3 separate regions of the Homo sapiens genome follow, and regions 1 and 3 are each linked to region 2. The links come from fine-mapping of genetic effects on gene expression. A gene starts in region 2. Each other region holds a variant in brackets. All regions are shown on one strand. Distances are from middle to middle.

The links. PIP is the estimated chance that this variant, and not a neighbour inherited with it, causes the effect.
Region 1: its variant is the best candidate, but not a certain one, in a credible set for the expression of CCDC171 in tibial nerve (GTEx, PIP 0.52).
Region 3: its variant is the best candidate, but not a certain one, in a credible set for the expression of CCDC171 in monocytes (TOPMed, PIP 0.77).

The regions. Positions count from the first base shown.
Region 1 is chr9:15,883,569-15,886,068 of GRCh38, reverse strand. The region is part of intron 24 of CCDC171 (coiled-coil domain containing 171); the gene reads right to left. Among named protein-coding and RNA genes, the nearest start is that of CCDC171, 330 kb to the right of the region's middle. The variant T/C (reference allele first, on the strand shown) is at 1,026.
Region 2 is chr9:15,551,769-15,554,621 of GRCh38, reverse strand. CCDC171 (coiled-coil domain containing 171) reads right to left here and starts at 1,579. Exons shown (of 26, transcript NM_173550.4): 1 at 1,320-1,579. RefSeq lists enhancers at 1,272-1,441, 1,337-1,982 and silencers at 1,722-1,811, 1,822-1,881.
Region 3 is chr9:15,511,921-15,514,692 of GRCh38, reverse strand. No RefSeq gene overlaps it. Among named protein-coding and RNA genes, the nearest start is that of PSIP1, 2.3 kb to the right of the region's middle. RefSeq lists enhancers at 1,433-2,051, 2,704-2,772. The variant C/T (reference allele first, on the strand shown) is at 1,665.

The DNA of each region.
Region 1 (2,500 bases), 330 kb before region 2:
ATATCCTAAATAAAATATTTTTAAAACTGTGATTTTGATAATTCCAAGTTTAAATAAGAGGGAAAAGAATTAGGATCTCTGTTGGAATAACTTTTAGTTCTCTTCTTCAATTCAAATACATGTATATAATGAAAACATATATTTGAGTATTTGAGAGTAATAACAGTCTGTTTAACAAATGTAAGGCATCTGTGGAATTATTACAAGAAATTATCATTGTACTTAGCTTTAGACTGATTTACTGCATCTTCCTTAATCCTTAAGTTGCATATTCATTGCTGTATTTTCTTCTAACTGCTGTCACTTAAGTTGTCATGCAGAATAGGGCAAATCGGGGTCAGTTTATATAAGCGGCATCAATTTGAAGAACTTCATCAGTCTTCATTTCAAGGCATTATGCAAAGAAAACTGACATTAAGAGAGCCTTAACTGACAGCAAATGAAATCAATCAGCAAATCACTAAGCCATAATAAACTCACTCATTTGTAGATAACCCTTCCTTTTCCAGGTCTTCACCTAGGCAGTCCATCAAACACTGTTTTTTGTCCAAGTAGCTAAAATGAATAGCAATTCTGGTTATAGCACTTGAAAGTTCAACTGCTCACAGGCTTCGTTCTCTCAATAATAAGTATTAAAAGATATAATAGTTCTAGTTATATTTAAAAAGTGGCCTTAAAATGAACAAAAAGATAAAGCATCAAGTTTAGAATTTAGTTTTTGCCTCTTAACATTAATGACAAAGAAATTATGTTCACATCATGTCAGCAGCTTTTCTACTTAGGGCCACCTAGAACTCAGAGTTGTAACAAAAAACAAAATTCTGTACTGTACTTTGATACGTTTTGTCATTTTTGTTTTTTACTAATTGCATCTCAAACATTTCACATAAAAGCAAATACTGTCACCACTTGAGTTGGAATTTGAAATCATCCCAAAATTAAATGATGAAAAGGTGACAAAATGTTTCAAAATATGGAAACAGTAGTAATGTTTGCATTACTTTATATGATTATTTAAATAGTAG[T/C]ATATGGCATGAATTTACCACCTGGGTCTTGGCAATGGCTGTATACTTAACTGGAAGGAAACACTAAAGTTGTTGAACATATTATTTTTTTGAAGGCACATGTTGAACAGGTCATCAATCAAAAACCTCCAAAAGTCAAAACACTAAAACCTTTCTCAATATAGTTGGGTCACCGTTCCTGACCTTAGGCCTTTTATAGTTCAGTCCAACTTAGCTTTTACTAATATAGCATTTTTTAATGTGAAAATCACCTTCACATGCACATTATCTCATCTGATCTCCCTACAGTCCTGTGAGCAAAAGCAAGACTGGCGTCACTGTCACCTTTTACAGATGAGGGAACAGTGGCTCTGTGCTGTTGAGTGACTTACCGAGGTGGTTAAATTACAGGGCCAGAACTTCAATCCAGGCATTCTGACTCTCCACACAAGCTTTTTCTAATACTACCTTGCTGACTCCTTCCCCAGAAAATGAAATTATTTCAACTTTTCCAAATACTATGCTGTTAAGAAAATAATTCCCATTCTAATCAACATAACTCAATGACATACAGTAAATTGCACAGACTTATGGTTGCCAATTTCCATATAATCTGATTTACTTTCTTGTCTTTTAAAGGGGTAAAAATATTAACCTGAAATTGAAAACTAAGCAATCTATATATACCTGACCAAGGGATGTTTATATGGCAAATATTTAAAGAAAAATTATTTCAAAAACATTTATTAGTGCGATTTAATTTTCTAAGTTCTTTCATACATGTTATAGGATCCTCATAATCACCCAAAGATGCACCAGACCAGGTAATATCACCTCCATTTTACTGATGAGGAAACTGACATGCTGGAAGAATTCAGGGTCAAGGGGTCACAGAAAATAGTGATTCTAGGATAGAACTCCAGTAGCACTGGAATTCTATCCAGTGCTACCACAAGAATTGTAATACATACTCATCCTTCACAAGAAAAGACAATGTTGTATTCCACATACACACAAAAAGAAAACAATTGTATAAAATAATGAGAATCCCTGCTACTGGTGTAATTTGTGTCTACAGGGGGAAGGATTTCAACTGCTTTATTGCCAGTCCTACTACTTTCTAGCAAAGTTGCATAACTGCTTCAACCTTCTGTAATACTGATTCTGCTATGATTTTATTTCCTTCCTAATTATTTTTTCCTATTAAGAAAAGGAATAATAAACAACAAAACTAGAAAAATGAATTTATAAATCTACCTTGTTTTTAAAGAAGTCCTACCAGATTTTCCTTAATCTCAGTTCAGATCAGTTATACCAGATCATTCCCGCAAGGTATATAATTCATACATACATTAAGCTGAATTAAGGAGTACAAAGTTATAAGATTCTTTAAAACTGTAGCAGAAGCTTTACACGGATGCAATTACTTGCCCTTAAATGTCATCTTGTCCTTTTTAAAAGGCAAAGAGAGATAAAAATCTCAACAAGAAAAAACA
Region 2 (2,853 bases):
AACCAAAACGTTTTAGAATCAAATGAGACTTTAGAGACTAAGTCCTTCCTCCTTATCTGACAGATAAAGAACCTAACGCCTAGGAAGGTTAGGTGGTTTGCCTGTGGGGACGCAGCTCATAAATGGCTGAGCCCCAAGACTAACACAGAAAGCTACAAACTAAGACTATGCCCTTCATCTTTCCTCTTAGCAGGTTGCACTGCCTTTGTTTCCTCTGCATTTTATGAAAAACCATGTTCATCTTCTGCTCTACCACTGTTTTGTTGAGAGTAGGAACTAACAGTTAAATAAAATAAGTGACATGCCGGGCGCAGTGGCTCACGCCTGTAATCCCAGCACTTTGGGAGGCCGAGGCGGGCGGATCACGATGTCAGGAGATCGAGACCATCCTGGCTAACACAGTGAAACCCCGTCTCCACTAAAAATACAAAAAAATTAGCCGGGCGTGGCGGCGTGCGCCGGTTGTCCCGGCTGCTGGGGAGGCTGAGACAGGAGAATGGCGTGAACCCGGGAGGCGGAGCTTGCAGTGAGCCGAGATCGCGCCACTGCACTCCAGCCTGGGTGACAGAGCAAGACTCCATCTCAAAAAAAAAAAAAAGTGACAAAATCGTATGTTCTTTTCTCCAATATTATGAAAACCATAAAACATCGGTATGTCATGTATTCAAAAGAGCTGGACACCAACTCTAATAAACAAAATAAAGACGTATTTATCTCATTTACCTAAAATGTATACATGAAATATGTATTTTCTTAGGATCAATATCATAATGGAATAAAAAAATTCAAAAAGTCGGCTCCATTTCTGCAGAAAATTTACAGCTTCGGGAAAACGCACAGCTGACTCAGATTCTAAGTCTCTCAGAGTCCTGGAGGGTAGGTAGAAGCTGCAGGTGACAGTCTAGCACAACTCATTCCCGTTTATCAAACATCTGTAGAGTGTCTAGTGTGTGGCCGGCATTTAAAAAGGGGAGAGCGGGCTGAAAGACGTGGTCCCTATCCTCGAGGGGCTTACTGATTCTCGGGAACGAAAGCGCTCCGCAGCAGTAACCCTAAGAAGCTCCAAATCCCGGTCCTCTGCCTCCCCTCTGGTCCCCATCCGGCGCTCTGGTACAGCCTCAGCGATCTCTGGCTAGGATGCTCCACGGAGATCTTCCTCCAGGTGGGCGGGGAGACCCAGCCCAGGGAGCTGGAGGCGTGCCCCAAAGCCTACGCCAACAGCCCCAGGGCCGCCCCAAACTCACTCAGGGGCCCCTACAACCCTCTCAACACCTCCCTCCCAAGTCGTCCGCCTCGAAGCCCCCACACCGTGCGGTTACCTCAGGGGTCTCGCGTGATCCGTGCTGCACACCCAAGACCCCAGGGGCCGCTCCAAGTCTCACGGGTGAAAGGAGGCCCAGGCAGCCCACGGGAATAAGAGCAAAAACTGTTGGAACACGACGGACTCCAGGACCCGGGAGGAGGGGGACAAACAGCAAAGGGGTACAGAAGGGGAAGAGCCCCCGGGAGGTGAAGTTTACAACTGCCACTTCCGGAGCTGAAAACACTCCGCTTCTCTCGCAGACCTTCCCAGACTTTCACAGGTCAGCCCAACTCAGGCCCGGCCCCACTTTTTCCTCCCGCCTCCCGCAGCCCTCAGCTTGCAGCTCCTGGATACGTACTCCGAGAACGCTGGCTCGGATTGGAAGAGCCCGCCCGCCAAGCAGCGCGCCTTCGCTGAGGGACGAACGGGCGCATGCGCCGTTGCTGGGGAGCGGCGGGCTCGCGACCGCACGCGCTCTCGCTCCAGGAGCTCCGCGTCCCCGCGCGGGGGTGCGCCCTGCCCACGCGCTGCTGTGGCTTTTCAGCGTGAGGTGTCCGCGTTCCTGTCTCAGTCGCCAGAGCCGAGTGGAAATGCAGATTTCCAGCTTCTAACCCCTTTTCCCTGCCTGCTGAATAAAAACCTAAGAGGTCGGATCCCAGATCCTGCTTTTTGAAACTGGTTCTTCTGCCCATCTTTAGAGCCACAGCAACGGTGGGCTGGTCCCGGGGCCTGGGGAGAAATTCTCTGGGCTCGGGTTCTGCCCAACTGCCTGGTTTACCTCTGTCTGGACAGCTCTCTGCCTGCACAGGGCATCCTGTCCCCTCTTCCCGTCCCCATTGTATCCCAGCTGGGAGTGGTGAGCAGGGTCGGAAGAATGCATTGATGCTGCTTGCAGTGCGTTTCATTATCAACATTACGTAACCAGGCACATCGTGGAAAACGCCTCGGAGCCTTAGCATGTGTGTTCCCTATCTCTTTCCTCGCTTCTCTCACTTTTCTCTGACACACACACACACACACACACACACACACACACACACACACACACCGTCCTCTTATTGATAATTTATACTTTGGTTCCTCCCGGTGGCTGCTTCACAATCTGCTGCCGCCTAAGGGAGACTGGAAAACCAACTCCTCTTTTGTTCCTTAACTTTTGAAAGCCTATTCTTCCAGAGAACAATGCAAATTGACAGGATTTGGTCAAAGATTTTTATCTTCACCACCACCACCTCCTCTGCACAAAAAGGTGTTTAATGCAAAACGAGCCTTCTATACTAAACTGGGTCCTTGTTGATTGTAATCAACCTGAAACCAGGTGTAGGGGCCGTCTTTTCTCTCTCCCATGGGAGAGCCAACGGTCATAAATGCAAACACAAATTGAGATTAAAACCTCCTTGATTCTTGTAGCACTGAAACCTTAATTGGTTTGATTTTAGTCATTTACATCTAAAACGGAGGCCTGTCCCTGATTCTTTTTACTAGAGCCATAAAGAGGACAATTGCTCCAGAGGAAATAAAGGGAAAAAATAGCCCACTCTAAAGTTTAG
Region 3 (2,772 bases), 40 kb after region 2:
TAACTTCCCACTATTTCCCCATCATAAGGATTAACATACAACACGAGAAAACAGTTCAATACCTGTTCATACCAATAAATTGAAGGTGCATCACTAACACTGTGTATTAAGGTAGGAAATTATGCAAGAGATACGAAGGAAGAGATTGTTGCTAATTTTTTAGAATAAAGATCTCATTTAGAAAGATTTTCATTAAAATAGTTAAAATGAATGTATTTGTAGTGAATGAAAAATGTCACTGCTCTTAAAGGGTTAACCTTTAAGTACTGTACAAGAAAAATTCATAAAGTCAAAACAAAAACACTTCCATGTGTCATACTTACCTGTATTTTCATCCTAAAGGATTAATGAGTCTGTTGGGGTTTTTCACTTGCCCCTCCCTCTCATTCACTCAATAAATATTTTTGAAAAGGAATTTTTTTTTTGAGAGAGAGTCTCGCTCTGTCACCCTGGCTGGAGTGCAGTGGGGTGATCTTGGAACACTGCAACCTCCTCCTCCCAGGTTCAAGGGATTCTCCTGCCTCAGCCTCCTGAGAAGCTGGGATTAACAGGCGCACACCACCACACCCGGCTAATTTTTGTATTTTTAGTATAGACGGGGTTTCACCATGTTGGCCAGGCTGGTCTTGAACTCCTGACCTCGTGATCCACCTGCCCTGGCCTCCCAGAGTGCTGGGATTACGGGCATGAGCCACCGCGTCCGGCGCTTTTTTATTGAGTACCTGCACTGATGAATAAGATAGTGCCTACTTCTAAGCAGTTTACAGATTAGTAGGAAAGAGTGTAAATAAGAAACTATGTTACTCTAAGATTAGGTCACATCTTTTCCAGAGGTGATTTTTGGGTTGAGTTTTTTAGGACCAGAAGGAGTTAAACAGAATGGTCTCGTGCTGGGGACAAGCTGGGGAATGGCATGGTGTGGAGGGAGGTTGTTAGGAAATTTGAAGCTGGGAATACTTTCAAGCCCAAAGGTGGAAGGTGGAAGAGTAAGTACTGGGCTGCTTTTCCTTCCAGCATCTTTTCTAATTATAAGCCACTCCTCCTTCAGCCTTGCTGCCTCCCTGCCCCACCTAGAGGCGATGTGGGATCACAAAAATGGCATGGGCAAGTAGCCAGAGGGGCTAGAATGTTGCCTCAGCCCCTGGACTAGATGTGTGATCTTGGGCAAGCTAGCTGCTTACCTTCTGTGAGCTTATTTTCTCATCTGTGAAATGGGGATAGTGGCACTTGGGTTAAATGAGATAATGTAGGCCAAGTTCCTGCCTCAACTCATTTGGATTTTCCTGCCCCCTCCCCTTGCTTCAGTTGTTTTGGAAATTACACTCTTTCTCCTTATAACTTTCCCATTGCTCCTCTGATCTCCATTTTGGTATACTTTTTCAAGTATCCCCACTAAGAAGGCTGACTATGGGAGAGGGCTGCACCAAGCATAGCTGGAAAAGAGCACAGAAAAGCTCTCCCAAGTGGCTAGGATGTGCCCAGCTTTCCTTCCCCGTTCCCTGCCCTCCCCTCCCCTCCCCTCCCCCCCCCTTTCCTCGCAGATTCAGAACTGTTGCTCCCAGGGATCCTGGGCTTTTGTTCTCTGGAAGCTTAAACCACCACCTGTTTTGCCTTTATTGTTTAAAGGGTATCTCCTGTTGTTCACAAACTACCACAGGTTGAAG[C/T]GGACAAAACTTAAAGGCAGCAGGAGCTAAGTATGGTACTTCCTTTTTTTAAAACAACAAAAACAACAGAAAATACTAATAGTAAAACATCAATGCTTTTCCATTTTCCCTTTTTTATTTCTTTTCTGAGGTCCCCTCTAACACTAACTACCCCCTCTTTACCTGTTAATCCTACCATTAGTACTAATAAAAAGTTATCTTTAACGTTAATTATAACTTGTTATATATCTGTTTTTCTTAGTTTGAAGTTTTTACAGTCTGAGGTATCCTCTAAAGCAGTTTCTCAAACTTGAATATGCGTAAGAATCACCTAGGGATCCTGTTAAAACGCAGATTATGATTTAGAAGGCCTGGGGAAGGTCTGAGCTTTACCTGAGCTCCCAGGTAAAGCCCTTGCTGCTGGGCCTTGGACCACACTTGAAGTAGCAAGGCCTTACAGGGTTTAGAACAAATAAAGTGCATACACACAAAAAAATGATTGCTGGATGCTGCTTTGGTCTCTCTTACTCTGTATCTTGAGCTTTTCTTCAATACATCTTTTTCCACCTTTTCCTATGCATAATTTATAGCCAACACCTGACAATCATTCCTTTGTGTAATTACTTAGTTGTGCTCTTCCTTCCCTTTTCTTAGTCACCATTCTCACTGAGAAATGCGTCATTTCATGAGTACTCCAGTTACCCCCAGCCTCTTTCTACTAACATCTACCTTGAAACATCAAGAACTGGTTAAATAATCATTTTTACCCCCTTCTTGCTGAGCAACCTATAGTAGCTTCCTACTACACACATTAAATTCATATTCAGAATGAGAAGCTTCAAGACATTTCACCAACCCTTCCTTCTCCTCTGCCAATTTCTCTTTTTGCTCCACTTGGAACTCTCTGCATATTGCCCAGGTATACTTAGTTTCTCGAAACTCCTTACAGGACATTTTACTTTGGGACTGTCTTCTTTCATTCCTTTTTAAAGACATGCTGTATCGCTTTCAAAAAATTCTCAATTTTTACCAATTCAAAAAAAATTTCCTAATTCATTTCCAGTTGAGTCCCGTATTTAAAACAGTATTATCTAGGTGCTAATATATGTCTTATTATTCTTATTTTTAT